Linked DNA regions of Homo sapiens. The protein of the gene in region 2 interacts with the protein of the main gene of each other region in a pairwise test. Each region holds a gene or a part of one and is shown on either strand. Other genes may lie near its edges. The genes, in order: CASP9, HSD17B4 and EPHX2.

Evidence for each region.
Region 1: the proteins of HSD17B4 (region 2) and CASP9 interact in a two-hybrid assay, tested with the Homo sapiens proteins (one large-scale study listed by BioGRID and IntAct).
Region 3: the proteins of HSD17B4 (region 2) and EPHX2 come close enough for resonance energy transfer, tested with the Homo sapiens proteins (one large-scale study listed by BioGRID).

What each region holds. Positions count from the first base shown.
Region 1 is NC_000001.11:15,517,684-15,521,335, forward strand, and holds part of CASP9 (caspase-9 isoform alpha precursor), read right to left. Parts: intron 713-3,652; coding exon 427-712; intron 1-426. UniProt on the Homo sapiens protein: Involved in the activation cascade of caspases responsible for apoptosis execution. Binding of caspase-9 to Apaf-1 leads to activation of the protease which then cleaves and activates effector caspases caspase-3 (CASP3) or caspase-7 (CASP7).
Region 2 is NC_000005.10:119,497,408-119,501,059, forward strand, and holds part of HSD17B4 (peroxisomal multifunctional enzyme type 2), read left to right. Parts: intron 1-1,909; coding exon 1,910-2,146; intron 2,147-3,652. UniProt on the Homo sapiens protein: Bifunctional enzyme acting on the peroxisomal fatty acid beta-oxidation pathway.
Region 3 is NC_000008.11:27,489,544-27,493,295, reverse strand, and holds the start of EPHX2 (bifunctional epoxide hydrolase 2), read right to left. Parts: upstream 2,154-3,752; 5' UTR 2,088-2,153; coding exon 1,987-2,087; intron 1-1,986. UniProt on the Homo sapiens protein: Bifunctional enzyme. The C-terminal domain has epoxide hydrolase activity and acts on epoxides (alkene oxides, oxiranes) and arene oxides. Plays a role in xenobiotic metabolism by degrading potentially toxic epoxides.

The DNA.
Region 1 (3,652 bases), on a different chromosome or scaffold from region 2:
GTAAGGGTAAATACTTTGCAGATGTCTGTTTGTATGGGGCAGATACAACTGAGGCCTGTCTCCTGCCCCCAGACATGAGGTAGTCCAGGCTACCCACCCAGACTGAAAGGCAAATCCAAAACAATAGATGGCTCTGGAAACATTGATCAAAACCTGGGGCCTGCTATCTCAAAGGCAGGAAAAAAAACAAAAACAAAAACAAAAAACCTGGGACATCCAAAACAGACCTCAACACATGCTTTTCAGAGGAGGGGCTGCCAAGATTCAACCTCCTGAAAACCTCCCAGAATTTTGCCATCCCTATGAACATTCAGAAAGACAATGCTAAAATTAAATTCTGAATCTCAGCCCACCCAGCTGTACTCATAGTGAGTCCCAAATGACTACGTGTCATGCCCACCCACCAATCACTCTCTTGCTACTTACCGACATCACCAAATCCTCCAGAACCAATGTCCACTGGTCTGGGTGTTTCCGGTCTGAGAACCTCTGGTTTGCGAATCTCTGGTCTGAGCACCACTGGGGTAAGGTTTTCTAGGGTTGGCTTCGACAACTTTGCTGCTTGCCTGTTAGTTCGCAGAAACGAAGCCAGCATGTCCTGGCCTGTGTCCTCTAAGCAGGAGATGAACAAAGGAAGAGCCTGACTCCCTCGAGTCTCCAGATCTATGATCAGCTGCCTGGCCTGATCCCGCCGAGATCCAGAGCCTGCCCGCTGTTTGGAAAGAAAGGCAGGATACTAATTATCCACGTACTTTTATATGGCTCTCACCTTGTCTCCCCATTTCCCAGCTACTGTAAGTCTAAACAATCAGGCACGTGGGCAGCAATGGAGCTGCAGGTGCACTGTGTGCCATTTACCAGCCTTTGCTGATCTGTTCATTATTTTGCAGGGCAAAAGATGCCCAGCACTATGCTAAGTGCTGAAAATGCTGCCATGGACAGTCTCAGTCCTTAAGGAGCAAATTTCTAATGGGGAATGCAATCAGACAAATCAGCAATGACACAACAAGAGACAAGTGCCCAGAGGGAAGCACATGGGGCTGAGGATATCATGAAGTGAATAGCGAATTCAGAGTCTTATGAGGTGGGAGGTAGATAGTGGCAAGGGACAAGGCCTTTGTGTGGCCAGGCCAAGAAATTCATCCTGAGACCTGTCAGGTGCCACCAAAGAGTTTTTTGGTTTTGTTTTTGTTTTTTTTTTTTTTTCTTGAGACGGAGTCTCACTCTGTCACCCAGGCTAGAGTGTACTGGTGCAATCTCAGCTCACTGCAACCTCCAACTCCAAGGTTCAAGCGATTATCCTGCCTCAGCCTCCGGAGTAGTTGGGGTTACAGGCACACACCACCATACCTGACTAATTTTTTTTTTATTTTTAGTAGAAACAGGGTTTCACCATGTTGCCCAGGCTGGTCTTGAACTGACCTCAAGTGATCCTCCAGCCTTGGCCTCCCAAAGTGCTGGGATTATAGGCATGAGCCACCGTGGCCAGCCATCGGTTGTTTTTTTGTTTGTTTTTTGAGGAGTCTTGCTCTGTCACCCAGGCTGGAATGCAGTGGCACCATCTCAGCTCACTGCAACCTCCACCTTTTGGGTACAAATGATTCTCCCACATCAGCCTCCCAGGTAGCTGGGACTACAGGCACCCACCACCATGCCTGGCTAATGTTTGTATTTTTTGGTTAAGACAGGGTTTCACCATGTTGGCCAGGCTGGTCTCAAAACTCCTGACCTCAAGCGATCCACCAACCTCAGCCTCTCAAAGTGCTAGGATTACAGGCGTGAGCTACCATGCCCGGCCACCAAAGAGTTTTAAGAATGGAGTGACAGAGACAGATATGGCCTTTCAAAAAGTCATCCAGGGGTCAGGGTGAAAAATGGAAAGGAGTGAGCCATAGCCAGATCAGGAGGCAGCAAAGATGGTGCAGCTAGAATAGAGAGAAGTGAAAGGACAAAGCAGAGATACAAAGAGAGAGGGTCCATAGGACATGGGCACTGACTGGGGGGACTGTGAAGACAGAGCAAGGGTCAAGGTTGACAGGCAGGCCAGGCACAGTGGCTCATGCTTGCAATTCCAGCACTTTGGGAGGCTGAAGTGGGAGGATAGCTTGAGCCCAGTTCGAGACCAGCCTGGACAACACAGTGAGACCCTGTCTCTACAAAAAATAACAAAAAAAAAGCCAGGTATGGTGTCACGCACCTGTAGTCCCAGCTACTCAGGAGGCTGAGGCTCCCAAGAGGATGGCTCGAGCCCAGGAGATAAGGCTGCAGTGAGCTGTGATAGCACCACTGCACTTCAGCCTGGGTGACAGAGCAAGACCCTGTCTCAAAAAAAAAAATTGAGAGGTGTCAGGATGGTGGGGTCAGTCACTAAGAAGGAAGAGTCTGGTTATCTGCCACCTGTCCTCAGATACCCAGCACTGGACAGGTTCTCAGGATCCACAGGGATAAGATGGCACCGTGTCCTCAACTATCCTACAGCAGCACTGTCTATGAGAACCTTCCGTGATGATGGAAATATTCTTGGTCTGTATTGTCCTATTTAGTAACCATATATCACATGACCATTAAGCACTTGGGTAGTACAACTGAGGAACTGAATTTTTGTGGGCGAAAGATTACCCAGGTGCCGAGGCAAGAGACTGAAGCCACAAACTGTTTCAGTATAATAAAGAAAATAGTTAGAATAAGAATAGTCATAATACAAATTAGGTATAGAGATGATCATGGACAATTATCAATCATTATTATAAACATTATTAATCATTAGCTTTTAATATTACTCTTTGTTGCATTGCTAATATAACTTAGGAATAACCGGCGGGTATAGGGTCAGGTGCTGAAGGGACATTGTGAGAAGTGACCTAGAAGGCAAGAGGTGAGCCCTCTGTCAGGCCCGCATAAGGGCCGCTTGAGGGCTCCTTGGTCAAGCGGTAATGCCAGTGTCTGGGGAGACACCCATTACTTAGCAGACCGCGAAGGGGAGTCTCCTGCCAGGCGCGGTGGCTCACGCCTGTAATCCCAGCACTTTGGGAGGCCAAGGCAGGCAGATCACAAGGTTAGGAGTTCAAGACCAGCCTGACCAACACGGTGAAACCCGTCTCTACTAAAAATACAAAAAAATTAGCTGGGCGTGGTAGTGCGCACCTGTAATTCCAGCTACTCAGGAGGCTGAGGCAGAACAGCTTGAACCCTGGCTGGGCGCGGTGGCTCAAGCCTGTAATCCCAGCACTTTGGGAGGCCAAGGTGGGCAGATCACGAGGTCAGGAGATCGAGACCATCCTGGCTAACACGGTGAAACCCCATCTCTACTAAAAATACAAAAAATTAGCCGGGCGTGGTGGCGGGTGCCTGTAGACCCAGCTACTCGGGAGGCTGAGGGAGGAGAATGGCATGAACCCGGGAGGCGGAGCTTGCAGTGAGCCGAGATTGCGGCACTGCACTCCAGCCTGGGCGACAGAGCGAGACTCCGTCTCAAAAAAAAAAAAAAAAAAAAGGAAAATAGCTTGAACCCGGAAGGTGGAGGTTGCAGTGAGCTGAGATCGTACCATTGCACTCCAGCCTGGGCGAAAAAGTGGGACACCACCTCAAAAAAAAAAAAAAAAGAAAGGGAGTCTCCTTTCCTTGGAGGCGTCAGGGAGCACTCTGCTCCACC
Region 2 (3,652 bases):
GTCTGTCTTCCATATACAGTTCTCATTCTACCCGTTCATAGTTCTTTATCTCTTTAAGGATAGCTTTAAATTGACTTTAAGTAGATTTGAGTTGTGTGGGAATTTGTATTTGGGAGGGGAGACTATGACACCATGACTTCTGGAGGTTATATGCTCCCAGGTTCTTTGTTGTGTTTTTTACCCCTTTACCTAATGCCCATAAGGCTTTAAACCTCTATGTTGAAAGTGAAGTGCCTATAATCAGCAAAATTTTGTTTGAAATGTAAATAATTTTGAAACTTTTTTCACATACAAAAAAATTATTTTCTAAGCTATTTATTGCTAAATGAGTGATGATAAAACTGTATAAAATATGTACTAAATATTGATAGAATTTGAACATAAGCTCAGATATTAAACTTTTGCTTTTTCTTTTTCAGTACCATTAGATTTCTGTATCTAACTGTATGACAAGTATCATTTTTTTTTCTTGACCATCAGTAATCCTACTTTAGTAACATTTTCTGACTCTTTAGAAAAGGATATCTAGTTTAGTGCTCTTTTGGGTCCGTTTCTTTTAAGGGAAGCATCGATATTGTATTTTAGAACTATTTCAACATGGCTGCAAGTAAAATGCTTCCCATTGAGTCAGAAATTCGAGAACAATTGTGATAGCTCATGTGAAATTTGCCTATTTACTGTTCCTGTTTGTATTCTTTCTTAAAAAAACTGTACTGGATAAATAGGAAGAAGTAAATCATATGCCATATTAGATTCTGTTGTTTTGTAACCTATGGTAGGCATTGTGATAAAGAAAATTAAAATTCTAATTTTAAGCCTGAGAATGTGGTCAGTATAGAAATGTGATTTTTCCTCAAAATAAGGGTTGGCAAACCTTTTTGATGAAGGGCCATATAGTAAATATTTTAGGCTCTGTGGGCTACATAGTGCTTCTATTCTAGTACATATTCTTTCTCTTTTTCTTATTTTTAATCAACCTGTATAAACCATTTTAGCTCTTAGTCCTTGTTTGCCAACTTCTACTTTAGAATAAAAATGATTGAAAAATTGGACATTATTCTTTTATATGTACTTCACTTATTAGCTACGCATATTATCACTAAGTAGAAAAAGACAACATCCAGTTAGACAAAGGATATTCCTGGGAAGGAAATTCAAGTTAATTTTATTTTACTTAACATTATGAGGGACTGGGCGCAGTGGCTCACGCCTGTAATCCCAGCACTTTGGGAGGCCGAGGTGGGTGGATCACGAGGTCAGGAGTTCCAGACCATCCTGGCCAACATGGTGAAACCCTGTCTCTACTGAAAATATAAAAAAAAATTAGCCAGGCATGGTGGCACGGGCCTGTAGTCCCAGCTACTCGGGAAGCTGAGGCAGGAGAATTGCATGAACCTGAGAGGCAGAGGTTGCAGTGAGCCAAGATCATGCCACTGCACTCCAGCTTGGGCGAGAGAGCGAGACTCCATCTCAAAACAAACAAACAGAAACCATTATGAGGCAATCAAATTTACATCCATTAAGCAGTGTTTTACTCATCTGTTTACAGTGAACTTTATACATTAGATCTTACAAGCAATTTACTATCCTTAATAACAAATTCATTATTTTTTGGATTTTTGGGTAGCTAATAGTTGCTGAATTAGAGACAGGAAAGTTGAGTATGAGGCATACTGTCTGTTAGCAAGAAGCAAGCAATAAAAAACTTCTTAACTGTAAATGAAGTCCTTTTCTACACATTACCTAATTAGTTTCTATTAAAAAATAAAATATAATTGCAATAATTATGCTCCATCAAATTCACTAACATTCTAGTCACATCTATTCAAAAACAAAACTAGGTATGTAAGAAGTTAATAGTTTTGAAAAGTTATCAATGAAATAAATTACTTTTTAAAACTGTTCTTAGGCTGGAGCTATTGGCCAGAAACTCCCTCCATTTTCTTATGCTTATACGGAACTGGAAGCTATTATGTATGCCCTTGGAGTGGGAGCGTCAATCAAGGATCCAAAAGATTTGAAATTTATTTATGAAGGAAGTTCTGATTTCTCCTGTTTGCCCACCTTCGGAGTTATCATAGGTCAGAAATCTATGATGGGTGGAGGATTAGCAGAAATTCCTGGACTTTCAATCAACTTTGCAAAGGTATGCCTAATAAAAAACCTTTATTTTGCTTTTCTATTTCTGTAAATATTATTCATTAATGTCATATCTTATATATATGTGTGTGTAGTGTGTGTATATATATTTATATAATTATTTATAGTGGTTAGTTTAGCATATCTTTTGATTTTTCTTTTTAAGAATAAAAGAGGGGAGAGTTAGTTCAAAATGCCAGCAAAAAGAAGAAAATAACAAGTATGTGTAGTCCCATAACCCTGGCATAATGTTATTCTCTCTCTGCCATTTACTTGATTCTTGACCAAGGGTAAATAACATCTCTAGGCTTCAGTTTCCTTATCTATAAAATGGATATGATAATCCTCACCTCATGACATTGGTGAAGAAGCAAGCCAGGGAGGAGTATTTAAAGCAAATAGCACATACTTGACTTGTTTTTGGAACAGTAATAGGGCCAGCATAGCTGTAGAGTGAGCAAGGGGGCAATGGTAGGAGAAGGTCATGGAGTAATTGTAAAGATTTCAGCATATACTTTGATGAACATGTGAAGCCATTTGTTGATCTGAGCTGAGTAGTGACATGATCTGGCTATGTTCACAGACTGGTACAAGCTTGTTGCTTTTGGAGACTAGGTTATAAGGGAGTCAAGCATGAAAGCAGAGAAACCACTTAAGAGTCTATTATAGTAATCCAAGTAAAAGTGCTGCATATGAGGGTTAGAAAAGAGGAGTCAAGGATGAAGATGTTTGTTCTGGATAATTGGGATATGTATATATATATAGAGAGAGAGATGGGTGCATATATATACATTGTATATAGTTATACATTGTATATAGTTATACATTACACATATCTATATGTAATGTATAATTATGTATAGTGTATTTAATATGTATAGTAATTACATATGGCATTATGTATAATTTATACATACACATTTATTTTAAGGTGGGGTTGATCAGGAGTTGGTTTTAAATATGTTTGAGGTGTCTGTTACACATTTAAGTGGAAATATAAGATGGACAGTTGAATATATGAGTCTAGAGTTCAGGGAGGGGTCTAACTGGGTCCTTAGCATTTACGTGATGTTTAAATACTGGAGATTAGATGAAGTCACCTAATGTGTGAGAGTAAGTAGAGAAGAGGCCTGAGTTTAGAGGCCCTGAAATGTTGAGAGGGTAAAGAGATACAGAGGAACTAGCAAAAAGAGACTGCACAGGAATGGTTGGTGAGGTATGAGGAGTATCATGAGAATAGGGTATTTGAGAAGCCAAATGAATGAAGTGTGTCAAGAAGGAGGAGGGAACAGTGGTGAGAAGTTCTTTGAGACAGGGTATATTTTATTTCTTGGAGTAAGATTCAGGTTATGAGCCTGGTAATAATTTTTGAATCATGGGGCTATGAGCTGGTATCTGTAACTTTGACTGATTGGAGAACTTATTTACTGGTGGATCAGTTAGCCCATTGCTGCTCTGAGTTGATGGCCACTTATTTTATTAGAGTGTTTCATGAAGTTGGGAGGAAGACAAG
Region 3 (3,752 bases), on a different chromosome or scaffold from region 2:
CCTGGCATTTACAGGAAAAGGCTTCTGAAACCAGACAACACCTTTCAAATTCTTATACCAACCTCTGGAGTTGGGTGACTTGGCTTCTCCCCTTTCTAGGTCCCGTGACAGCCATCTTGCTATTACTCACCTTCAGTCCCTGTATTTTTAACCTCCTCCTCAAATTTGTTTCCTCCAGGATCAAGGCCATCAAGCTACAGATGGTCTTACAAATGGAACCCCAAATGAGCTTAACTCACAACTTCTACCGAGGACTGCTAGACTGACCCACTGGCCCTTTGACTGGCCTAGAGAGTTCCCCTCTGGAGGACACTACAACGGCAGGGCCCCTTCTTTGCCCCTATCCAGCAGGAAGTAGCTAGAGTGGTCATCACCCAGTTCCCAGTAGCAGGTGGGGTGTCCTGTTATGAGGGAGGATTGAGAGGTGAGGCCAGCTGGACTTCCTAGGTCGAGTGGGGACTTGGGGAACTTTCCTGTCTTACAAGAGAATTGTAAAATGCACCAATCAGCGCTCTGTAAAACGCACAATCAGCAGCATTCTAAAAGTAGCCAATCACGGGGAGGATTGAAAAAAGGGCACTCTGATAGGACAGAAATGGAACATGGGAGAGGACAATAAGGGAATAAAAGCTGGCCACCCCAGCCAGTAGCGGCAACCTGCTGGGGTCCCCTTCCATGCTGTGGAAGCTTTGTGCTTTCGCTGTTCACGATAAACCTTGCTATCACTCACTCTTTGGGTCTGCGCCATCTTTACGAGTGTAACACTCACTGCGAAGGTCCACAGCTCCATTCTTGAAGTCAGCAAGACCACGAACCCACCGACAGGAACCAACTCTGGACACAACTATAGCCTCCAACTCCTGGGCTCAGGCAATCCTTCTGCCTTAGCCTCCCAAGTAGCTGGGGCTACATGCATGCACTAATGTCTAGCTAATTTTATTTTTATTTTTGGAGAGACAGGGTCTTGCTCTTTCACCCAGGCTGGTCTTGAACTCTCAGCCTCAAGTGATCCTCCCACCTTAGCTTCCCAAAGCACAGAGATTACATGCCTTTCCCTCAAGCTACTTGCCATCTCATCTTCCTTACTATATTAAAAGCAAAGGCTCCGGACATGGACTACTGGGGTTGGATTTCTGGCTCTGCTCTTTAACAGCTATGTGATTTGGACAGCTGGTTTCTTTCTGTGCCTCAGTTTCCTCATATGTAAAAGGAGGATATGAACAATGGCTTCCATGCCTGGCCTTCTTTTTCACTTTATAAATAAGTATACTTCTCTCCTTTCTGAATGTGGGAATAATACATTGTTTATAAATTTAGAAGTTGGAAACTACAAAAAAAAAAAACACAAAAAAAAGAGAGAGAGAAAGAAAATCATTACATTATTCCTAATCTCATTTGATGTACTTTGGCCTATTTCTTTCAGGCACTTTTCTGCATGTACCTTTTTTCCATAGCTGAAACCATATTGTATAAATAGCTTCAGATTCTGGTGGGGTGGTTTTTTCATGTAGTAGAACAGGTGTTTTCCCAAGTCCCTGAGCTCTCACTCTGCACACCCCATCTACCATTTCCCAGTGATGTGGCTTTGGGCGGTTGCTGCAGTTTGCTATTACACAAGTAAGCATGCAACCCACACCTGGGGAGAGAACTTTCTTCTCTCCTGAATCTCGGCTCGCATCTTTAAGCGCCACCCCATTAGACAGGAGGCAGCAGAAGCACAAAGCTCCATGAGTAACTCCTCTCCCTTTTGGAAAAGTTCACAGAAAGCAATTTTGGAGACCTTGGCAACGTTTAATTATGAACATTTAGAAAGACAACGGATCTCCTCATATGCACTGGGACTTCAGGGCCAGGTCTTCAGTTTCATGATTCGCATGATTCGCAGGGCTCCGGCACAGGAGCAATCTGAAAGCTGGGCTGCAAGCCCAGCGCGGTCTGCCTCCTGAGGCCCCGACCCACTGCGGCGGCGGCGCTGGGCCCCCTTACCTGGGCAGCGCCAGGGCCTCCTCCGTGCGGCCGAGGACGCCGAACACCGCTGGCAGCGCCAGCACCCCGTCAAGGTCGAAGACGGCCGCGCGCAGCGTCATGGCGGCGGGTCTGCAGCCTAGCACCCGGACACGCAGCTAACCTGGGAGATGCGCGAAGGCCAGGGCGCATGACCCGCCCAGCTTGGCCCGGCTCTGCCCCGCCCCTGCCCTGGCCCCGCCTCCTCCCCACACCCCCTTAACGGGACTCCGCCCTCTGCCCGGGTTAAGGCTGGACTCTGGCCGGGAAAGAGGCAGGGGGAGGGGCACAGGAAAGGGAGTCAGAGGGAGAGGAAGAGGAGGCCGGGAAGGCGGGGACCCCAGGCTAGAATCTCGCCTCTGGATGTAACGCTTTCTACTGTCTCAAAGGAAAGTCCAAAGTCTCTTATGCCCCCTCCCCACGCCCCTGCAGTAGCTGCTTGAAGAGGCAAACCCAGGCCCGGGCCTTCCTGGACGGACTGACAGCTCCCTGCGAACTTGCTGGACTTGGAATGCCTGGGAAAGAGGCCACAGACTCTGTGTGTGTGTGTGTGTGTGTGTGTGTGTGTGTGTGTGTGTGTGTGTGTGTGTGTCAGCACATCCAGTGACTTCTACATTCAGAACATAAGACCGTGTTGGGGGGCGGGGGAGGGGCATATCCAGTGACTTTTCTAGATTCAGAACGAAGGATCACAGATCCCTCACTATCCTGACCACTCCTCTAGGCACGCTCTTCTTTGCCAAGGCAAATGTGTTTCTAGAATAAAATATGATGTTCCAGCTATCGTGTGCCAGCCCAGAATACTTCGATTTCAATCTCTTGTGGAATGAAGCTTAGAAGAACTAAATGTAGGCTATTATTTTCCTTTTGTACATGCTACTTGTAATAATTCTGTCTTAAAATGTGCGAGGTTTGTTTTTAATCACCGATTTCCACACTATTGGCTCGTTTATGTTCCTAGAAAAACTAAAACTTTGGCTGGGAGTTCTTGAGCTGTTGTAGTGCAGCTCCATGAATTAAAAACCGTGTCTTTGGTGGAGACCAAACAGAGTGAGTGAGGTCTCCAACAGTGGAGAATTTACTCTTGAATGTGTCTCTGTGGATTTATCCAAGATACCCTCCACCACGGAGCTTCAAGAACCTTGTGAGGGGTTGTCAGATACCTCACTGTAACTGGGAGGTCTACAACAGTCTCTGGATCTAGCAATCAACAACAGGATTGACCAGAGCCGTGGGTTTCCTCTGGGCTGTTTGCCCTTAGCAAGCTATGCTGTTGCTTCCTTCTCTAGCTTGGTAACCTCTTCCAGGCTCCTGCCTGGAGCAGTTATTAGTGTTTTCTGAGATTCTTGCCAAAGAAGCAGAGAGTGGCCAACACTGCCAAATGTTACAGGAAGAACTGAAAAAAAAGCTGTCCAATTTTGGACTTGGATGACACCGGATGTTTCAGAACACTTTTTGTGGGCCCTTTATGGTAGAAACTGGATTACTCTGGATTTGAAGACTGAAAGATAGGCAGAGAAGGGAGTACAGCAAGCTAGTTTCTCATGAAGTTAGTTGATCTCAAAGGTATAATTGAATTTTAAAAAATAGAAAGAAAATTGCAGCCTGACCTATATAGTATGAAACCTGTTAAATCTCCAGATTGGGCATGGTGGCACACACCTGTAATCCCAGCACTTTGGGGCTGAGGTGGGAGAATTGCTTGAGGCCAGGAGTTTGAGACAAGCCTGGGCAACAAAGCAAGACAT